Linked DNA regions of Homo sapiens. The protein of the gene in region 1 purifies or fractionates together with the protein of each later gene. This does not show direct contact. Each region holds a gene or a part of one and is shown on either strand. Other genes may lie near its edges. The genes, in order: SLC22A15, ERGIC2 and GHDC.

What was found.
Region 2: the proteins of SLC22A15 (region 1) and ERGIC2 purify together in Homo sapiens (affinity purification with mass spectrometry; 2 studies listed by BioGRID and IntAct, with this or other methods). This does not show direct contact.
Region 3: the proteins of SLC22A15 (region 1) and GHDC purify together in Homo sapiens (affinity purification with mass spectrometry; 2 studies listed by BioGRID and IntAct, with this or other methods). This does not show direct contact.

Annotation. Positions count from the first base shown.
Region 1 is NC_000001.11:116,028,478-116,035,583, forward strand, and holds part of SLC22A15 (solute carrier family 22 member 15), read left to right. Parts: intron 1-2,888; coding exon 2,889-3,104; intron 3,105-3,234; coding exon of another isoform or gene 3,235-3,253; exon of another isoform or gene 3,254-4,169; coding exon of another isoform or gene 4,170-4,170; exon of another isoform or gene 4,171-5,280; coding exon of another isoform or gene 5,281-5,281; exon of another isoform or gene 5,282-5,377; intron 5,378-6,709; coding exon 6,710-6,850; intron 6,851-7,106. UniProt on the Homo sapiens protein: Organic zwitterion/cation transporter with apparent specificity for amino acids and their derivatives. Has low affinity for its substrates and may regulate their flux across the plasma membrane at high substrate concentrations.
Region 2 is NC_000012.12:29,378,143-29,386,169, forward strand, and holds the start of ERGIC2 (endoplasmic reticulum-Golgi intermediate compartment protein 2), read right to left. Parts: upstream 3,031-8,027; 5' UTR 2,973-3,030; exon of another isoform or gene 2,327-2,972; intron 1-2,326. UniProt on the Homo sapiens protein: Possible role in transport between endoplasmic reticulum and Golgi.
Region 3 is NC_000017.11:42,191,444-42,198,466, forward strand, and holds the start of GHDC (GH3 domain-containing protein isoform 1 precursor), read right to left. Parts: upstream 3,052-7,023; 5' UTR 2,950-3,051; intron 2,408-2,949; 5' UTR 2,324-2,407; intron 2,152-2,323; 5' UTR 2,139-2,151; coding exon 1,874-2,138; intron 1,585-1,873; coding exon 1,463-1,584; intron 1,300-1,462; coding exon 798-1,299; intron 1-797.

The DNA.
Region 1 (7,106 bases):
AGTATAATAGTAGCACCACTTCACTGGATGATCTGAGCTGTTCTGCTTTTTTTTTTTTTTTTTTTTTTTTTAAAATATATAGTCTGAACTAGTTACTGTTTAGTGCTAGGTGGAAACATCTCCTCACTGGGAGGTGAGTTCAGGTCGTGAAAAATAGAAAGCAGAGAGAAAAGAACTCATGAGATTTAAATATTTACTTATTCCACTAAGCCTGGAATGTAAGGCTTCCCACAGTCAGCCTCCATTTATCTTTCCTAATTTCCCATCCTATGTTCAGGCACACTGCACTACTTGTTCCTTATGCTTTTCTGCTCCATGCTGCTACTCAGTGCTGTGTCTGCTTTTTCAACAATCTTCTGCCCAGATCTTCTTATTTGATAAGTACACCACTGTCCTGATTTTCTCAAATGCCGTCCACCCCATCTTTTCCTGATCATAGCTTCAGCTACAAGTCATTGTCTTTCTTTTTTGAATTCCACGGCATTCACCCATACCCTTTGAGTGGCCCTTATGTTTCTGCCTCATAATGGAGCCATGTTCTCTCTTTCTAAACTGAGAGCTCTCCAACAGTAGCAGGCTCTTTGCTCCATGATAACATTTTCCCCAGTACCAAAGCCAGGGGTTTCCACACAGTAGATCCTTGGACATTGCACAAATGTTGGCACAAAAACATTTGGAATCACCTTTAGAATTTGTAATCAGCAACATAAGAAGCCACATTATATACCTTATTTGTTTACCAGAAACATTTTTACCTAGCTTAAAAATTCCTTATTTTCACAATACTTCAATTTCAGTAGATTTACTTTTTTTCTGAAAACCAGGGTCCCCTTAATTTACAAAGATTTGCCACCTTTAATGATATTCATGGAGCGGTTTTGAGTTGGGCAACATTGTTAAATTAGCATTTTAGCTTTCAAAGGAGCCCACGGCACAGATGACCCTGCTGCTATGTAGAGGACGGCATGTTCAAAGGCCTGCTCTTTCTTTTAAAAACGTGTCTTACTGTTTTGTACGTATAATCTGCGTGTGTTGGAACTCTGTTTCCAAATCTGTCCACTGGCAACTAGGTGACCCTCTTTAGAAGCAAGCTTATTGGCCTCTCAAAATGCAAAGAAATATAAGACCGTAAGTTTTCATGATCAAGATAAACCCTTTGCCAGGTAGAAATAGTTTTATTAACTCAGAGCCGAATTTCTAAAGCCTTCGTGTCTCTCAAATACCAGCTTTAAAATGATTTATAAAGTTTTAAAAGTAATTTTTATTGCTTATAAACAATTTTGAAAACACAGAGAGGCTAAGGGTAGGAGAAAATGACATATAACCCAAAGATAATGACTGTGAATATTTTGGCGTATTTTCTGTTGTTTCTTTTTTATTCCTCCCAATCCTCCCCAAAATAATTTTTATTATCATATATTTTCTCTCAATATTTATCACAGTAGTCCTCTTTCATTTAGACATAATCAAGTGGTTTTACGTAATAGCTCCTATATGCCCCTATGGATAGGGCCAATAAATCCTACTCATAACCTGCAGACCTAACTTCAACAGAACAATGTTTTACTTGATTATTTATTTGTTTGTCCGTAATAATAATCAAATGGCAATGAAGAAGTAAATGGAAGGATTTTTCAGGATGTTATAGATGGCCTTTGTTCCTGCTTTTGCTGACAGTCAAATATTGTGCGTGAATATTCCTTTCCTCAGTAGCAAAGCTCCTGGGAAAACTCCTGCCTTTTGGTTTCCAGCATCTTTCCTTTCAGCACCATTACATTACTCTGTACAAAATTGAAATGCTCAATAAATGGCTGTTGACAGACTGGCTGTCCATTAAGTTTCCAAATCCTGTAGTGTTTGTTCCTAATTCACTATCCTTATTAGAAGGCACAGTGAATTCTATAAAGCACCGTAAATAGCCAGTTTTATTCATCTAAGTTTCATTTTAGGCAGATAATGTCAAATTAGATTTAAAAAAAAAACAACCTTGATTTGTGTCTTGTAAACAAGGCTTCCATATTCCTGCCTTGGTTTTGTCTTTGGAAAGTCCTCTGAAAGTGTAGGTAAAATGGGGAAGAGGCAAAAAGATACATAATATTTAAGTTTTGAAACTCTTTGAATATATCAATGGCAATATAATTATCCAACACTTTGTAGTTACATTAGAAAATAACTGTTGTTTTGTAACTAGAAGTTGGTCAGGAAATAACTTCTATTCTTTAAGGTCTTGGGGGATCAGGAAATATCCTCAGGACATATTAAAGCCAGTGTGTCAGGTGATTTGAGTATTTTGAAGCAGTAAACACTCAAAAGTAGCTTTGGTAAACTTGGTTTCATCTTTATGTGTAGTCTTAAGATAATCTCTACCTCCTACATGTCACTATGTTAAAAATATTTCAGTTTAAATTTTTTTTTCCTGATGAGATAATAAAGATTTCTATCTTGTCAGGCTTTTTTAGAACTTAAAAAAACCCATTGTCTCTACAGTATTTTCAAACAACACTTGGCTAGGATTTAGAGCCATATCTTTGACCTGTGCTTTATGAAGAATTTTCATTATTCAGTCCTATAGACTGAATAATATGTTAATATTTAACATATTAAAATTCACATATTAAAATTTATTTAAAAATAAATGCATACTGTTTGCTTTTTAAACTGCAATTGTAAAGCATGTTCTTGGTTTTCAGTGATAAAGTAGACTACCATTTAATGTTAGCATGCTGTTGAAAGTAGCCCTTTCATATGTTATTGGGAGAGTCAAACTTTAAGTCTAACATGGAATCCCATTTGTGGTGCAGGAATCCACGTACTGAGTAGGTGATTTGTCTCCTTCCTGTGCACGTGTACCTATATGAATATACAGGCTTTAATGACATCTCTTTCAGATTCATTCCTGAATCACCTCGTTGGTTATACTCCCAGGGTCGACTGAGTGAGGCTGAAGAGGCGCTGTACCTCATTGCCAAGAGGAACCGCAAACTCAAGTGCACGTTCTCACTAACACACCCAGCCAACAGGAGCTGCAGGGAGACTGGAAGTTTCCTGGATCTCTTTCGTTACCGGGTCCTGTTAGGACACACTTTGATCCTGATGTTCATCTGGTAATTATACTAAGGCGTGTTCTGTTGCTCTTTAACTAAGGTTGCTCGAGCTTCTCTTGATATCCTGCTCCTTCTTCAGGGTACAGGGAATTTTACCTCTTTTGTTAGCTTGAGGTTGTTTTCTCAACAGCAAGTCTCCTGATCCTTAGCGCCTGGTTTTCTGCTTGCGCAGCCCCGTCTTTCTCAAGTAGCAGATGATAGTGCCTGATGGGCAGGTCCACTGAGCTTGAGTAAGTAGACATCAGAAGCACATCTTTGCTTTTGAGGTATTTATCATAAATATTTAAGCCTTCCTGCCCCTTCCCCTGCAAAAAAGGAAAGAAAGCAAATAAGCATGGTAGAAATAGATGAGTTTTTAAATAGGACTTTAAAAATACTTACCTTTGGCACTGGCATCAAGCAGTTTGCTAGCACATTCTGATTGCGGTGCTCCATGCTGCATTTTCTGTGGCACTCCCACTCACTAACTCACTGAGGTGGGCTAAATATGATCCCTTGTACAGATGGGACCCCAGGAGTTTGAAGTGATGAACCCTAAGCCACATATGTAAATCAGTGATTGAACTGATGAGCACTTTCTGAACCTGATTTTTCTGGTTGTTTAGCTTATTCCCACCTACCTTTCAAAATGCTCTCAGCGTGAGTGTAAGTTGCATTCAGCGGTTCAAGATGGTTTCATTTAAAGAATGAAGTTGTAGAAAGAGGAGAAATGGATGGGTGCATACAATTTGTGGATTGCACATGTGTTTTGATATTGTACATACTGCTAATGTGCCATAAGTGTTATCTGGGCAAAATCATACCTACTAGCCTAAAGGACAGTTGTGCTGTGGCTTATATGTATTTGCCATGAAGCCTGCATGGAGCCCTACATTTCATGCAGGGATAAAGGAAAGTGATTTTATATGAAAGTGATCTTATGTATAAAGCTACAAAGAATAGTAGCTTTAGAATAAGAAGCTGCAAAGATATTTTTCTATATCATATACTCTTTTTCTACCCAAGCAGTGGCTGCCACCTGTATGGTTGGGGGCCATGTTAACCAACTGCTGCTTTCCCCCACAGAACCATCACAGCACTAGGAATATCACAGATGCATAATAAATGTTGAGGCTTGGAGGCATGGAGATTAAGAAAACCGTTGAAAGCCAAACCTGACAACACAACATAGGAGCTGCTAATTTGAGGTTCTACCCATTCAAAAGCAAATACTTACAAAGTATGTTCAGGTACTTAGGGCTCCATAAAACTTTACATTTGTGTATCACATAGACAGTCAGTCAACCTCTGCCTTGGAGGAACCACCTACTTGTTGCAGATTATTCACTATTTTTATTTTTTCCCCCATGTATATTAACTTCTGGGTTCTGGCCTTCAATGGATAAACAAACAAACAAACCCTAGACTTAGGGCCAGGGAAACTGTCCCTGTTCATTTTATTTCTTACACAGCCAAATAAACTTCTTCCCTGAGGCTGAGAATGTTAAAACATGTGATAATAGAGACAGTCACTCCACATATTGCCGTTCTTTTTGAAGATGCTATAAAATTCTAAAATCTTCTCTGTGGATCTGTCATTCAAGAAAGCCTTAACTGGGGATTCAAATTATACCTCTGTGTTAAACATCTGTTCCTTTAGTTATTTTCCACAATAGTGCCTTTTTAAATAATTATTTGATGCTCTAAATATACTGTTAAATATTATGCAAGCATTTTAGATTTTGTTTGGGGGACATAAAGAGGATTGAAATGATTTTAATAGCTGTAATTATGGATCCCAATGACCAACTCTATGACGAAGGCAACTTGCAGAGCAGAGGCCCAGCCCTGGGGACAATGGGCCTTCCATGCTTCATGCTCTCCCCGTTCTCTCTCACCACCAGCTGGGAACTAAATTCCACTATTGTCCTGAACTGGCTTGTCTATTCTTGCCCTGACTTGATACTGTCACAGCTTGATTTAAATAGGGGTGTCTCTGTGTGTGTGTGTGTGTGTGTGTGTGTGTGTATGTGTGTGTGTGTGGCTGGAATTTCTATTGTAAATGCAGAACAGACACAGAAAACCAACTGGGAAACAGCATTATGTAAATGCTGTTTCTGCAGGTGTAAGGGATTTTAAAAACGTTTTAGAAAACTGCATGGATTTAAATTTATTTTGCCTTCTGCTTTCATGCAAGATACCTGGGAGACAGTGAGAACAGACAATGCAGTGTCACCTTGCATCCTTACATGTGATGTCCTGGCTACAATCCTGCCCGTTGTCCTTGGTATATGAATAACACTTCATCTCAGTAAGAAATCATGCATAATACTTCTGGCTCATTTGCTAGGGAGGGCTGGACTACTAACCACTCCAGCTTGAGGGTCCCTTCTCTTTACATCTCTCTCTTCTTACATTACTACAGCCTGGGGTACTTGGCCCACTTCTGAGATTAAGCAGAGATGGAAATAAAACTTTCCCTTTCCTGACTGATCTCATTATAGCCACAGCTCATTAGAGTTTCTCTAAGGAAAACTAAAGGGAAGCAAATGAGAATGTCCCCTTAATAAACACTGATCAAACTGTGTTGCAAAAGCATAAAACCTGATGAACTTAACAAAGCTTCGGTGTTTTACTGCTTGTATAGAAATTTGTGGTTTACCAAACATATTCATATTTTTGTAAAGCCCAGTTTCAGGGTTTTATTTTTGTTCATTCTATTCTATTTTGTTTTGTTTTATTTTAATAATGCAGTTTCCTAGGCATAGAAGTTCCTACTACCACCATTACTGTGTTTGAGGAAGCCCTGATTTGGATCTTTAGGTTGGCACTTGGCTTCCTCAGCTCTTTAGTTCTTGGATTGTAGGAGAGAGGCTTGGTGCCTAGCACTATGCCTGCCACCCAAGAGGAGCTCCCTGTTTGTTTCAGGAACGGTGTACATAAATAAATTAATGGCTTTTTAAGTGACCCTTCCTCGGTTGTTCCTCCTAGAAGATCCTGCCTTTGCTGTGACCTTTAATTTTTCTTTCCTGTTCTGGGAGTCTGTATCATGTGCACCTGCTGAATGCAGGATGGGGTTAAAACCTGCAATGGGAAGTGTCTGGATCATTGGGGATTGGAGTGCCAGTCATTTTGGGCCTGCAGGTGACCCACTGAAGATCCAGTCACTTCTCAGCTCATGTTCTTAAGGCCATCTTCTGTTGGCTTTCTCCATGGGAGTTCTTTTCTAGAATCATTTCAATAATATTACAACTATCTATAACAAGTGTTCCATAAATTGTTGCCTTAAATAAAGAATAGGGTCATTGTGTTCTATTAATTGCAGAAATGCTTGCTGAAAGCACATGCAATGTCTTTCCTCTTTAAGGGGCTGGCCATCCATTTGATTTATATAACATATAGACATAGCTCAAATTATTTCCAAACCCCCATAATTTTTTTGTTTTTTCCTAGTGTTGAAATTTAGATTAAAATAGAAAAATTAGTAGGAGAGACAAGCTTATTGCTTACAGCAGATCAAGCAATTATATTGAACCAATATTTGAATCTCCTCTGGCAAATTCTTATGTACTTTTCTGTTGTCCTTCTTGTCTTTTACCTCCTGGTCCTTTGACTCCCAATTGCAGGTTTGTGTGCAGCTTGGTGTATTATGGCCTAACTCTGAGTGCGGGTGATCTAGGTGGAAGTATTTATGCCAACCTGGCCCTGTCTGGCCTCATAGAGATTCCATCTTACCCTCTCTGTATCTACTTGATTAACCAAAAATGGTGAGTAAGTGTGGATGAATATGAAGTGCACCGTAGAGAATGCACACATACACATATGCCCTCTGATACACATGCATATCTATATGGTGTTGTCTTTGTATGCAGTATCAGCTGATTGCTCTGTGGTGATTAGAGTTTCTTTCCATCTAAAAACAGTTAGAATTCATTTCTTAGTGCAGGATTTCTTGAGTTTCATGTTTACGAGTTTTTATATAGATTTCAATTCAATATTGAATATCGAAATCCAAGATAGTAT
Region 2 (8,027 bases), on another chromosome or scaffold:
CTGAGACTGGTGTCCTTTTAAGAAGGCCATGTGAAGACACAGAGAAACACAAGGGAAAATGCCATGTGAAAACAAAGGCAGAGACTACAGTGATGTGTCTACAAACCCAGGCATAGCAAGGATTGCCCAGAAGCCAGGAAGAGTCAAAGAAGGATTCTTTCCTAGAGTCTTCAAGTCTTGCTGACACCTTGATTTCAGACTTCTAGCCTCCAGAACTGTGAGAGAATAAATTTCTTTTGTTTTAAGCCTCCCAGCTTATAGTAAGTTGTTACAGCAGCCCCAGGCAACTAATACAGGCAATATAATTCAGGCCATCGCTGAATATCAGAAATAAAAGGTAAAACTACAACCTATCTGTAATTTTAAATTACTTGATTATATTGCATTAGAATACTTTACAATAAAAAACATTTTATAAGATAGCTTAGCTTTACTTTGCAAATACTAGATAGCAACCCCCCAACCCCCTCAATTGTACTTATTTTTACCTTAAAATTTGGACCTTTTACAACAGAGTTAAATATTATGTTTGTTTACCCCAACATAATTCAAATAAACCTAATGACATTCTAAGTGACAGAAAGGTTTACTTGGAAGCCAAGGAAGACAATATAAATGTGAGTTTATAATCAGAAAACCCTGATTACCTAGGCACTTACTAGTTGTGTGACAAGTGTGGAAAGATACTCAACTTCTTAGAATCCTCTCTCCATAATTTTATTTTAAAAGATGGGCAGCAGGACATAATGGCTACCTCACAGTGTTAAGATAAAAATGAGGCATGTAATATCTATTTCTAATTCTCTGAAAAAAAGCAAAGATTTGTAGGATATTTGAGATTTAGTTGTTAAAGTCTTTGAGGAAAGTGGGAGAGTATGTGAGGTTAGTTGACAATCTCCTGAAGTTAGGATGGCATAAACTGATAAGACTAAAAGTTAAGAGAGACTATAGAGTGATAACAGAATAACCTTAAAAGTGCCTAGTAGCAATGTGAAGCAAGGACAAGTATAATCCTCCTCAAAGAACAACTAGACTATAGTAGCTCTCAATAAAAGTATAGAAAATTAAAGTTAAAAAGTATTAAGGAAAAGGTCAGGGACACATGAAATATATTTACAATAGAATGAATGTTCTCAAAAGCAAAGAGTATGGGGGTTAATAAGGCACTCAGAGGGTAGATCTGAGCCACACTACAACGTGACTATATAGAGCAATAGAAAGGAAGAACTTATGCTTTAGTCATTAAAAGAGGATAATAATTTAAGAAAACAAGCAACTGGATAATGGGAGTTTAAGGACACATTAACCACACCAATCAGAGTGTTTAATCAATCTGGAGTTCAGAAAGATATTATTTTAAACAATATCTTCTTCAGTCTACATTTTGACTAAGTAACAAGGCAACATTTGTAACTACAGATGTTAGAAAATGAAAATAAAAAATAACAAGAGCTAACATGCATTGAGTGTTTACTGTGTGCCAGGTATTGTTCTAAATGCTTTGTATGTTTCAACACATTCAATCCTCACAACCTTCCTATGAGTTAAGTATCATTATTTCATTTGGCCGATGAAGGAACTAAGGCACAGAGAGGTTAAATAATTTGACCACTATGACATTAAGAGGCAGAATTACAATAAATATTGGGAAACTATTAAATAGGATTTTTAGCAGGCACTGACTGCCTAAAAGTAACTTCTGGTAAAGAAAAAAAAAATAGCCATTTCTTTCACTTAAATCATCAATCCCCAAAGAAAGAAAATGTGTGGGTGGTTGTTGTTGTTTCCCTAACTCTCGTTGTTCCAGACTAGGCCTGATTTCCTTTGAGAGATCTTTCAAACTTGATATATTTTTATGATTTGTACCAGGAAGCCATTATAACACGCAACTGTATACTAAAGTTCACCATCATTTAAAAAAAAAAAAAAAATCCTCCTCTCTCTATCCATCCCTGCACCGCCAACCCCCACCCTCCCAAAAAATCAGAATTTTTTTCCTCATGTTTTCCACTAGAACTGGCATAATTACAACAACTTAAAGATATCAACAAACAAATTAGGTAAATAACCATGTCTTTTTTCAGTGAACAAGCCAGGCTCATTCTTTATAATTGCTGTATACTGGAGTCCAATGTATCAGGCTAGGCAATTAACTGAAATACTGAATTACAACTTCAAATGAATAAATCCTGTTTTTAACTGTAACTTTCATTGCTTCTGAAAACCAGTCTGGCAACATTTTAACAGCTATTATGCCACTTTGTCTTTAAGTCTCGGGGGCACTAAAATATAAAAGTTATTTAAACGTGTTTTCTCAAACAATGACCTGTCAACTCTATATACTACAGATAAACAAGGCTATTCTCCACCACGAGTTGACACGTTGCCTTCGGAAGGTTTCCTGCGCCGAGGAAAAGTAGTGACAGTCGAACCTGTCTCTCAGCATCTCGCCCTCCCCCGCCCCCTTCTCATTTTCCGAAGCACTGTGCGAAACTCCTTCCGGGCAAGGCCAAGACTCTTAAAGAGACAGAGGGCAACGTGCTGCCACGAATGTGGCATTTGTCTGAATGGGGGTAGGGAGTCTGACATCCGGGAGGACTGGGACTCGACCGATTGGGATCCTACTCGCCTGCGGACTGGAGAAACCACCTGGGAACCGGGCACTGTGACAAGCAAAGGGTCAGAATCAGGTGCGATCGAGGAAGCACCTGAACTCCTTCGAGTTGCAGGATAGCACACAAGCACCCGGACCTGGCAAAGGGAAGCTCCCAGTAGCATCGTTGCCTAGGGTCCTGCCAGTAACGCCCCCGTGGGAGGTGGAGCGGCTTCTCCGTCCGACCGGCTCTCTAGAGATCAATGAAGACAGGAAGCCAAGCCCATGACAGGCTCCCAGTTCCCTCAATTGCATTTACGCCCTAAACAGCCCTGGAACAACCGAGGGAACAGCACCCAGCGGTGTTTCAGTATTTTACCTTGTGTTATGGTCCCAGCCTACCGCCATGTTTCACAGAAGCCCGGGTCGCCGGGGCTCCCGCGTACCCGGAAATATCGCGAGAACAAAAGCGACTATCACAGCTGAAAACGTCAGAAAAGAGACAATGTACAGATCTCGCGATATTCCCTTTGCTTACGACGTGCTTAGGGAATGAAGAGGCGTGGTTAAGATAAAAGAGGCGTGCCTACAGGGAAATGAGGTTGCAACTTGTTTTAGGTGTAATCGCGCCGCCAGTCCGGTTCTGTTTCTATGGGAAGGGAGGGGTTACTTTCCGACTAACACTGAGACTGCAGAACGAATCTCAGCTCCTCACACCGTATTTCATTACTAATAAGAGCCTTGGGCGCAGAAATTATCCCTAACAACCCTAATGCATATCACCTGTGCAATTGTTTTGTTTCCCTCTTTCAGTTTTTGTGTCGTTTTCCCCTGACAAGAACATTTGAGCTTCCTTTTCCGCCATAGGTAACGCTTTTTATTATTTGATCAGCGTTTTTATTGTCTTCCAGGTTTTAATATCATAAGAAAGCACATATGTCTTCCTCATCTCCCTTCGCCAACACCAACTATGCCTTCAAATATTTGTTAAGAAAGAAAATTAATACCTCATCTTTTTCTACCACTTCATAGAACAGGAGTTAATAGACGGAACTTCGGAAAGAAAAGTTAAATGTGAACTCCTGGAGAGTAAACCCATTCCAGGTTCCTTTTCACCCATCTGTTACCAGATTTTATAATCAAACATTGAGATTTAAATTTTCTGATTCATTGACCTAGAAGTCTAACAACGGCATAATTATGACAACTGCTTATAATTACTGTTTAAAGGCTTTAACTGCTTTTTTAAAAAATCTGCGTATCCTCACAACACTCTTAGAAGATAATACCAGTATTTACCTGTTTTATAAATACGGAATTTGAGTCAAGGGGTAGTGAAGTGATTTACCCAAATTCAGACCGCTGGGAGAGTCAGGGAAATCTTGATCACAATACTAAACTGTGCCTCAAAGGAAAAAAATCACATTGTTTTATGTAGTGAATTAACCTTTACTGAAATACTAAATTTCACTAAATTGAATATCCCCCAAAATAAGGACTGATGAAAAGTTTCCAATGAATCAATTTTATTTTCAGACTTTCAGAGTTAGTCTAATTAAATCAATTTAAAGTTCTCACTTTCTTGACATGCTTAAGAAGTATAGTGTAGTGGGTGAAATCATAGACACTGGAGACAGGACTTCCTGGGTTAGAATTCCAGATCAGCAACTTACTAGCATGTAACCTTGACCACATTATTTCATCTCTTTGTGTCTCCATTTGCTCATCTGTAAAATGGGCATGATAATATCTCAGAGTTGTTACGAGGATTAAGTAAATTAATATACATCTAAAATGCCTTTTTTTAATCTTTGCCGTAAAGGCATCAGCAACTCTTCCTTCTTTGTGAATATGGGCTCTTGCTTGGATGGAGGCTGGCTGTTGTTCACTTAGTTACATCTGATCCCTCATCTCCTGGATAACCTACTTTCAGGGTAACAACTATCCCATGAGAGTTGGATTTCCCAGTGTAGCAAAACTGACTAATTTGATCCTTCTTATTTAGAAAACAACTCACCATTTTCTAATCTACCCAGTGAAGAGGGAACTTAATTTCCCCTGAAGATTGAAACTCTCGGGCTGCAGCTAAAGCCGCATTCTTTTCATTAAAGGCCAGGGTTTGATCTAACAGTAGCACGACATCTCTGCAAGCGAGGTCAAAGGTTTGCCCTAGACCCTGTAGGACATCTATGTACCTATCAGGATCATCTTTAAAAAGAGATAGATACTTAATCTTGTGTTATCAGTGGCGTTATGTCTGAAAAACAATTTGCTTTAAAAAGTCCATTATGTATTACCCGCATAAGATAGGTTTTAGACTGAGATTAATAATTGTTCCATAACAACCTGTATTTAGTAAAGATGATCAAAAGGTGTTTTTGTGCCATTTTTTTCTTTCTCTAGTTCGATTGAATAATTCATGGGCTTTTTTCTAATTCTCCTTAGTCCTTCTAGAACACAGGTCAACAGATGTTTATGACTTCAGTCCCCATGATCTGAGTCAAGGTCCCAGTGGGGATCCATACTGGGGATGGCTTGCTGACCAGTCGGGAATTTGTCCCTTTCTTCGGCTGTCATTCTGTCATTTACTTGACTAAGATACCAGGTATCTCCAAACTCTTGGGCTGCAGCTAAAGCCGCATTCTTTTCATTAAACGCCAGGGTTTGATCTAACAGTAGCATGACATCTCTCCAAGTGAGGTCAAAGGTTTGCCTAGACCCTGTAGGACATCTGTGTACCTATCAGGATCATCTGAAAACTTCCCCAGGTCTGCCTTGATCTGCTTTAAATCAGAGAGGGAGAAGGGGACATGTACCCGGGTTGGGCCAAATACCCCTCCCGCTATAGCTTGAAGGGGACATAACCAATAGCCCGGGGTTTTTTGTGGTCCTTTGGAGATTTCCTTGCTTGTTTCCTTCTGGCCAGGGGAGATTAGAGGAGGATTATCATTAATAGGAAGGGGAGCTATAGGGAGGCTAGGATATGGGGATAAGCTGAGAGATCCTCCTGTGGGATATAAATTGTAAGCTTTGCATAGTTGTGTATTCTCCCTCAATGAAAATAAAGCTTGGACATGAGGTATTTCACTCCATTTGCCTTCCCTCTTACAGAAAAGATCAAGCTGCAGGATAGTATTGTAATTTGTACTTCCCTCAGGTGGCCATTTTTCCCCATCAGAGAGAGAATATTGGGGCCAAGCCGTAGTGCAGAAAAAAATGAGCCGCCTCTTTTTCAGGGTTTGTGGGTCAAATTGGTCCCAATGGCTTAGGATGCATTTCAAGGGTGAGCCTGTTGATGCCTGAGTGTTTCCCATCTGAAAGACAAAACTGCCGCGTTTTGGTTTATTTTGTTTCTCCCCCTGCCCAAGAACCTACAACGGTCCCTGGACCCTGCTGATCAGAATAGTTGCGCTCACCAACACAGCAGCAGAAACAACCCCTGCCCAAGAACCCGCAACAGTCCCTGGACCCTGCTGATCGGAATAGTTGCGCTCACCAACGCAGCAGCAGAAACACTAGTTTTCCTCCCAGACCACATGGAGGACCAAGGAAAGTCAGATTTAGCGGTCCTTACCGACGCATTCTCGAAAACCTGCACCCTTGCCTGTCCTCCTAGGCCACAAGGGGGACCAACTGAGAAAAATCGATTTAGTGGCCCTTACCGACGCATTCTCGAAAAGCTGTTAGAGTCCTAAGCATTCTCCTGTTAGTACTGGGACTTTACCCCTGTCCTATAAAGATGTTATGCCCCAAAAATGAAGTGGAGGGCCATACCCTGAGGGAGGGAAGGGATCTCCAGGTTTGGAAGAGTGACACCTTTTGTCCTCACTTATATGAATAGGAAGGATATAATTTCTGAGGCTCCCCATATCCTAGCTTCAGGAATAGCTTTTGTTAGGCCTGTTAGTCTGAGGAGGGATCCTAAAATTCCAGGTAGTCCCCACTACGATGGGGCTTTGGGCAAAAATTATGTCTTTCTGATTGGTGAGCCCGGGTGCCTAAAGAAGGTAACAGAGTCCTGGAGTTTATACTAGAAATCATTCTTATAGGAGAAACTAGAAAAGCACCAGAGACGGTAGCAATTTTTAGAAGCGGGACTAACCTCAGAGAAGAGAGGCAAGAGGAAGTTTGTCTGACAGGCATTAGGACCCAGGGGGCAAGGGTCAGGATAGATAGGATAGATGGGCGAGTCTCGCTTGGGCGACATGCTTTTGAGAGTTCTGCTCATGGCCGCAGGGTCAACCAACTTGTTGTCGGGACCCCAGAGCTGCATGGCTTTCCTCTCTGTCGACCCTCGGCTCAGCCCAGAAGTACTGGAAAAGCAGAAGCTGGTTCTAGGGAAAACAATGGTCCCAACTCCGAAGAGTCGGGGGTTGTTATAGAGCCCTTTCCCAGAAAACCTGACACCCGTGTCTTTAGTCCGGTGGCCACGCTAGTCGCTTTTAACTGGCCAACAGGTGCCCGGTATTTAGCCCCCAAATTCTAAGGAAAGATAGGACAGAATAGCAAGCTAAAGGGGTCCGATGGTACTCACTGCTTGGCAATAGGTGATTGTCTCACCGCTCAGCAATAGGCGATGGTCTTACTGCTTGGTGATTGGCGAAGGTCCCATCTGGGTCGCCAAAATGTGTCTGGAATTGGTGGGTTCTTGGTCTCACTGACGTCAAGAATGAAGCCGCGGACCCTCGCCGTGACTGTTACAGTTCTTAAAGGCGGCATGTCCGGAGTTTGTTCCTTCTGATGTTCAGATGTGTTCGGAGTTTCTTCCTTCTGGTGGGTTCATGGTCTCGCTGGCTCGGGAGTGAAGCTGCAGACCTTTGCGGTGAGTGTTACAGCTCTTAAAGGCAGTGTGGACCCAAAGAGTGAGCAGTAGCAAGATTTATTGCAAAGAGCGAAAGAACAAAGCTTCCACAGTGTGGAAGGGGACCCGAGCAGGTTGCCACTGCTGGCTCAGGCAGCCTGCTTTTATTCTCTTATAAGTCCCCACCTACATCCTGCTGATTAGTAGAGCCAAGTGGTCTGTTTTGACAGGGCACTGATTGGTGCACCTACAATCCCTGAGCTAGACACAAAGGTTCTCCACATCCCCACCAGATTAGCTAGATACAGAGTGTCCACACAAAGGTTCTCCAAGGCCCCACCAGAGTAGCTAGATGCAGAGTGTCGATTGGTGCATTCGCAAACTCTGAGCTAGACACGGTGCTGATTGGTGTGTTTACAAACCTTGAGCTAGATACAGAGTGCCGATTGGTGTATTTACAATCCCTGAGCTAGACATGAAGGTTCTCCAAGGCCCACCAGAGTAGCTAGATACAGAGTGTCGATTGGTGCATTCACAGACCCTGAGCTAGACACAGGGTGCTGACTGGTGTATTTACAATCCCTGAGCAAGACATAAAGGTTCTCCACATCTCCACCAGACTCAGGAGCCCAG
Region 3 (7,023 bases), on another chromosome or scaffold:
CACATGAATTTGTGCAAGACTCTTTTTTTTTTTGAGACAGAGTCTCGCTCTGTCACCTAGGCTGGAGTGCAGTGGTGCGATCTCGGCTCAGTGATTCAGTGATTCCTGGGTTCAAGTGATTCTCCTGCCTGAGCCTCCTGAGTAGCTGAGATTACAGGCGCCTGCCACCACACCTGGCTAATTTTTGTATTTTTAGTAGAGACAGGGTTTCACCACATTGGCCAGGCTGGTCTTAAACTCCTAACTTCAGGTGATCCACCCACCTCAGCCTCTCCCAAAGTGCTGGGATTACACCCGTGAGCCACTGCCCCGGCCTTTTTTTTTTTTTTTTTTTTTTGAGACAGGGTCTTGCTCTGTCACCCAGGCTGGAGTGCAATGGCGCGATCTCAGCTCACTATAATTTCTGCCTCCAAGGTTTAAGCAATCCTCCCGCCTCAGCCTCCCAGGTAGCTGGGATTATAGGCGTGCACCACCATACTCCGCTAGTTTTTGTATTTTTAGTAGAGATGGGGTTTCGCCATGTTGGCCAGGCTGGTCTGGAACTCCTGACCTCAACGATCCATCCACCTTGGCCTCCCAAAGTGCTGGGATTACAGGCGTGAGCCACTGCACCCAGCTACAAGACTCTTAACCTAGAGAGCCTGAATTTCTTCACTTGTAAAAGGAGGCTGCTGGCCCTAGCATGCAGCTTGTTGGGGAGGATTAAATGAGATGATTATGTAGGGCCCAATGCATGGCTGCTTGTCATGTGACCACTGACCGTTGCCCCCACCTCACTGCCCTTGAGTCCCACTGACCTCCCGAGGCAGCATAAGCAGGAGAGAAGAAGGCTAGTCCTTGGCACCACAAGGCCCCGAGGGCAGCCACAGCCTCGGCCTGGCCTCCTGCATCCAGAGTCACCACCACCTGCAGCTTTGGCCAGAGCCGAAGGGCCAGTCCCCGTGGCCCCTGCTCTAGGGCCTCCCGGAGCTCAGCTGCCCGTTCACGGAGAGGCGCTCCAGGGTTCCCGGCAGCTATCGCCCCAGCTAGCTCTTCACCATCAGTCTCCAGGCCCAAGAAAACATCCAGAAGTTCGACAGCCGTCCCAGCCTCCAGTGCCCTCAGCCCTGGGGACCTCAGTGCGTCCAGCAGCAGGGCCCTAGGGTCCTTGGTTCCAGGGGTGCCCACCTGGCCCAGGGTATTCCCAGGCCAAGGCAGGGGTCGGGGCCAAGGGGATGTAAGCGTCACACGGGCAGTGCGTCCCTGAGCCAGCACTTCTGGGTAGGCCTTGTTTAGGGCTGCCAGACCCAGCAAGGTGGCCTGGAGGAGGAAAGAGAGAATGTTGGTCTGGTGTCAGAGCCAGACCCAGAGCCCCCATTTGGGGGTTCTTTGCCCACCATGACTGGAGGGTTTGGCTGCAAGTCAGAGGTCTCTGGTGGGACTGGGCTGTGGCCAGGACTGGGCTCTGGCCATCCTAGATTACCTGCAGAGAGGCCTCCCCAAGGTCCTGGTTTGAGGTCGGGGGCAGTGGCTGCTCTCCACTGTCTTCCTGCTGGGTCTGGCTGGCCTTGGTCAGAGGGAGATGATTCCGGAAGGTGCTTATGTCTATAGCCCCAATGACAACAGAAACGCCTCAGGAAGCCAGTTTCCCAAGAGTTTCAGGCAAGACTGGTGAGACCCTTGAGGGAGGAACCGAGAATAGGCCTGGGGTAGAGAGGATGTAAGGACCCAGCATGGGAAATTCATCTTGGACAAGAAAGCCAGTCCTGGGTCTCTGGGTCAGGCCACTCCGTTGGCAGTGGAGGAGGTAAGGGGGCCATCAGGCTCTGGAATCTGACGGTCCTGTGGGGTTTCTTTCTCTTTGGGTCACCTCCCCAGACCCTGGGAAACACACCTGTGCTCCTTCTGAGGGAACAGTGGGGGCGCTGGGCTCCCTGTAGACACCACCTCAGGGCCTGCTGCTGGCTCTGGTGCACATGGAGCGTGCTCTGCTCCAGCCTCCGCCGCTGCCAGGTGGCTGCCCAGACCAGGGCCCCCCATGCCACTCGGTGCTGGAGGCCAGCAAGCCAGGACAGCCTGGCATCCTGGGACCGCTGCTGCCTGAGCAGGGCCAATGTTGGCAGCAGCAGCAGCAGCAGCAGCAGTGGCCACAGCAGCATCTCCAAGCAGCTCCTGGGAAGAGGAAGGAACCGAGATATGGGGGCATGCAGCAATTATCCATTTCTCCTCCCACGCTCTACTGCATACAGGAAAACCGAGGAAAAATGAAATTGGGAAGAAGGCAGGACCCTGTGGGGCAGGTGATGCAAAGGAGAGACTATCAAAGCTTTGGAGTCCCACTGACCTGAGTGCAGATCCTGCCTCTGCCGCTTGTTAGCTGTAGGGCCCTGAGCAATTTAGTGGGCTGCACTGAGCTCTGTTTCCTGATCTGCAAAATGGGAATAAGAATAAGAATGCCTCTTTCAGAAGGTAGGGGTGGGCCGGGTGAGGTGGCTATCATCTGTAATCCCAGCACTTTGGGAGGCTGAGGCAGGAGAATCACTTGAGCCCAGGAGTTTGCAACCGGCCTGAGCAACATAGGGAGACTCCATCTCTACAAAAAATTGAAAAACTAGCCCAGCGTGGTGTCACACCCATAGTCGCAGCTACTTGGGAGGCTGAGATGGGAGGATCCCTTGAGCCCAGGATGTCAAGGCTACAGTGAGCCAAGATCGTGCCACTGCACCCCAGCTTGGGCAACAGAGTGAGACCCTGTCAAAAAAAAAAAGAAAAGAAAAAAAAGGGAGAAAAGAAGGAAGAGGAAGGGAAGGTACAGGAAGGGTTTCGGACAGGGTCGGTCGGGCACACAGCAGCTGCGTAACGATATCTCTTGCCCACTCCCGAGTGGCTTTGCTTTCTCTCGGGATCCACCCTGTCCCAGCTCCTTGTCCCTCCTGAGCCCCAGGCTGTGGGGTCCATGCCCACATGCACCTGTCACAGCCCACTTCTGCCTACTCCTGGCACGTGACGGAGACCCCTGGGTGACTCTGGGTCTCAGCACACATCCGGCCAGAAAGAAGGAGCGATGGCTTTAAAAGGCTGGGCCCCAACTGGGAAATCCGGCCACCAGGCCTGAGGGAGGAGCTGAAGGAGGGGGGTGCTCTTAAAGGGGCAGGTCGCCTACAGGACTTCATGTCGGGTGCTAGCCCAGGCTGGCAGTTGGGGCAGTTAGGACCAGACTAGCATGGTCCTCAAACTTGCGCAGGTGAAGGAACAGAAAGGTGTGTGTGGGAAAGAACGCCATTAAGCCACTTGAGCTGGGAGAGGGGCAAGCTTAAGAACTCTTAAAACCCCAACTCAGCTGGGCGCGGTGGCTCACGCCTGTATTCCCAACACTTTGGGAGGCTGAGGCGGGTGGATCATCTGAGGTCAGGAGTTTGACACCAGCCTGACCAACATGGTGAAACCCCATCTCTACTAAAAATACAAAATTAGCCAGATGTGGTGGCACATGCCTGTAATCCCAGCTACTTGGGAGGCTGAGGCAGAAGAATCACTTGAACTTGGGAGGCGGAGGTTGCAGTGAGCTGAGATTGCGCCATTGTACTCCAGCCTGGGCAATGAGCGAAACTCCGTCTCAAAAACAAACAAAACAAAAACAACAACAAAAAAAACCCCATCCTCTCCCTCAAGGTAGTTGAGAAAGAAAACAATTTTATTATTGAATAAGCATTCAACCACAATGTGATGTACATGACAGGTGATCTGCTAAGAGCTTGCAAAGAAGGGAGGAAATCTTACTTTTTTGTATAGCCAAGCGCATACAACCCATTACATACACGTTTTCAAGATAAACAATAACGAGTCCTCAAGTAAGAGGACTTGTCACATATAGTTTATCTTTTTTTTTTTTTTTTTTTTTTGAGACACAGTCTTGCTCTGTTGCCCAGGCTGGAGTGCAGTGGCACAATCTCAGCTCACTGCAACCTCCACTTCCCAGGTTCAAGCGATTCTGCTGCCCCAGCCTCCCAAGCAGCTGGGATTACAGGTGTGTGCCACCACGCCCAGCTAATTTTTGTATTTTCAGTAGAGATGGGGTTTCACCATGTTGGCCAGGCTGGTCTCAAACTCTTGACCTCAAGTGATCTACCCTCCTTGGCCTCCCAAAGTGCTGGGATTACAGGTGTGAGCCACCACACCCAGCCAGTCACATAGTTTATCTTAACTTTACATGGTTATTAGGTGAACATCTGTGTTAGCTTGCTGGCTTTATCCCAAGGAAAATTACAAACTTCTTTTTTTTTGTTTTTTTGGCAGAGTTCTATTCTTGTTGCCCAGGCTGGAGTGCAATGGCACGATCTTAGCTCACTGCAACCTCCGCCTCCCAGATTCAAGCAATTCTCCTGCCTCAGCCTCCCGAGTAGCTGGGATTACAGGCACGCATCACCACACCCAGCTAATTTTTTGTATTTTTAGTAGAGACGGGGTTTCACCATGTCACCATGTTGGCCAGGCTGGTCTCAAACTCCTGACCTCAAGTGATCCACCTGCCTCGGCCTCCCAAAGTGCTGGGATTACAGGCCTGAGCCACTGCACCCAGCCAGTCACATATAGTTTATCTTAACTTTACCTGGTTACTGGGTGACCATCTGTGTTAGCCTGTTGCCTTTATCCCAAGGAAAATTACAAACTTCTCTTTTTTTGTTTTTTGTTTTTGAGACAGGGTCTTGATCTATTGCCCAGGCTGGAGTGCAGTGGTGCGATCATAGCTCACTGCAACCTCAACCTCCTGGGCTCAAGAGATCCTCCTGTCTCAGCCTCCCAAGGGACTGGAACTACAGGTACGCACCACTACGCTCAACTAATTTTATTTTTTGTAGAGACGAGAGAGCTCCCTATGTTGCCCAGGCTGGTGTGTTCTTGACCTAGGCTCTCAAAACACTAAAACCACTCCCTTTCTCCCCTTACTTGCCTCTGGATACCTTTGAGAAGAGAGCTACTACTTGCTGAGCACCTCTCTTCCCTTCACAGCTGAGCTTCTTTCAACAGGTCTGTTCTCACTCTGGCTAACTCACCTCACTTTCACGTTTTTTCTCGCTGAGATCTTGCATTTGCTTTTATTATTTATTTAAAGACAGGGTCTTGCTCTGTTGTCCAGGCTGGAGTTCAGTGGCCTGGTCACAGCTCATTGCAACCTTGAACTCCGGGGATCAAGCAATCCTCCTACCCCAGCCTCTGAGTGGCTAGGACTACAGGCATGTGCCACCACACCCAGCTAATTAAAAACATTTTTTTTTTTTTTTTGTAGAGACAGGGGGTCTTACTATGTTGCCCAGACTGGTCTGGAACTCCCGGTCTCAGCGATCCTCCTACCTTGGCCTTCCAAAGTGCTGGAATTACAGGTGTAAGCCACTAGACCTGGCCCAGTAACAGCTTTATTAGATATAATTCACACACCATACAAATCACCCATTTAGTGTACAATTCAAGATCTAGTATATCCAGAGATATGTGCAACCAACACCACAGATAATAACATTTTCCTTACCTCAAAAACAAACCCTGCAGAGTCTCTCTGAGCCTACTGTGCCTCAGGAGACTGCCCAATTCGTTAAATAAAATAAAATAAAATAAAATAAAATAAAATAAAATAAAATAAAATAAAAAACCCCAAACTCAGGCTGGGCGTGGTGGCTCACACCTATAATCCCAGCACTTTGGGAGGCCAAGGCAGGTGGATCACCTGAAGTCAGGAGTTCAAGACCAGCCTGGCCAACATGGCAAAACACTGTCTCTACTAAAAATACAAAAATTAGCAGGGTCTGGTGGCCGGCGCCTATAATCCCAGCTACTTGGGAGGCTGAGGTGGGAGAATCGCTTGAAACTGGGAGGCAGTGGTTGTAGTGAGCCGAGATGGCGCCACTGCACTCCAGTCTGGGTGACAGAGCGAGACTCTGTCTCAAGAAAAACAAACAAAAAAAAAAACAAAACAAAAAAACCCCCAAACCCTGTATCCTTTCACTATTACCTCCAAACTCCTTCCCAGCCTCTAGGCAACCTCAAATTTACTTTCTGTCTCCATAGATTTGCCTATCCTAGACATTTCCTATAAATGGCATCATATAATATGCGGTCTTTTGTACTTGGCTTCTTTTCTTTTTCCTCGCTCTGTCACCCAGGCTGGAGTGCAGTAGCATGATCACAGCTCAAGTGATCCTCCCACCTCAGCCTCCTGAGTAGGTGGGACTACAGGGGTGCACCACCACATCCAGCTAATTTTTGTATTTTTTTGTAGAGATGGGGTTTCACCGTGTTGTCCAAGCTGGTCTTGAACTGCTGCACTCAAGTGATCCCTCGCCTCAGCCTCCCAAAGTGCTGGAGTCCCAGTCATGAGCCACCGTGCCCGGCCTGGCTTCTTTCATCTAGCATGATATTGTCAAGGTTCATCCGTGACAACATCATGTCCTGTGTGTCAGCACTTCATTCCTTTTTATTGCCGTATATTCCATTGTACAGATATACCATAATACATTTTGTTTATTCATCAGTTGATGGACATTTGGGTTGTTTCTGCCCTTTGGCTATTATGCATAATGCTGTTATGAACATTTGTCACAAGTGTTTCTGTACATATATGTTCTCATGGTTCTTATGTAGATACCTACAAGTGGAATGGCTGGGTTTTTTGTTTTTTTTTAATTTGAGACAGAGTCTTGCTCTGTTGTCCAGGCTGGAATGCAATGGCATGATCTCGGCTCACTGCAATCTCTGCCTGCCGGGTTCAAGCGATTCTCCTGCCTCAGCCTCCCAAGTAGCTGGGATTACAGGCGCGTGCCACCACGCCCAGCTAATTTTTGTGTATTTTTAGTAGAGACGGGGTTTCATCATGTTGGCCAGACTGGTCTCGAACTCCCGACCTCAGGTGATCCACCTGCCTTGGCGTCCCAAAATGCTGGGATTACAGGCATGAGCCACCGTGCCCGGCCCTATTTGTTCCTTAAGAGCCAGCTCCAGGCTGGGCATGGTGGTTCACGCCTGTAATCCCAGCATTTTGGGAGGCCAAGG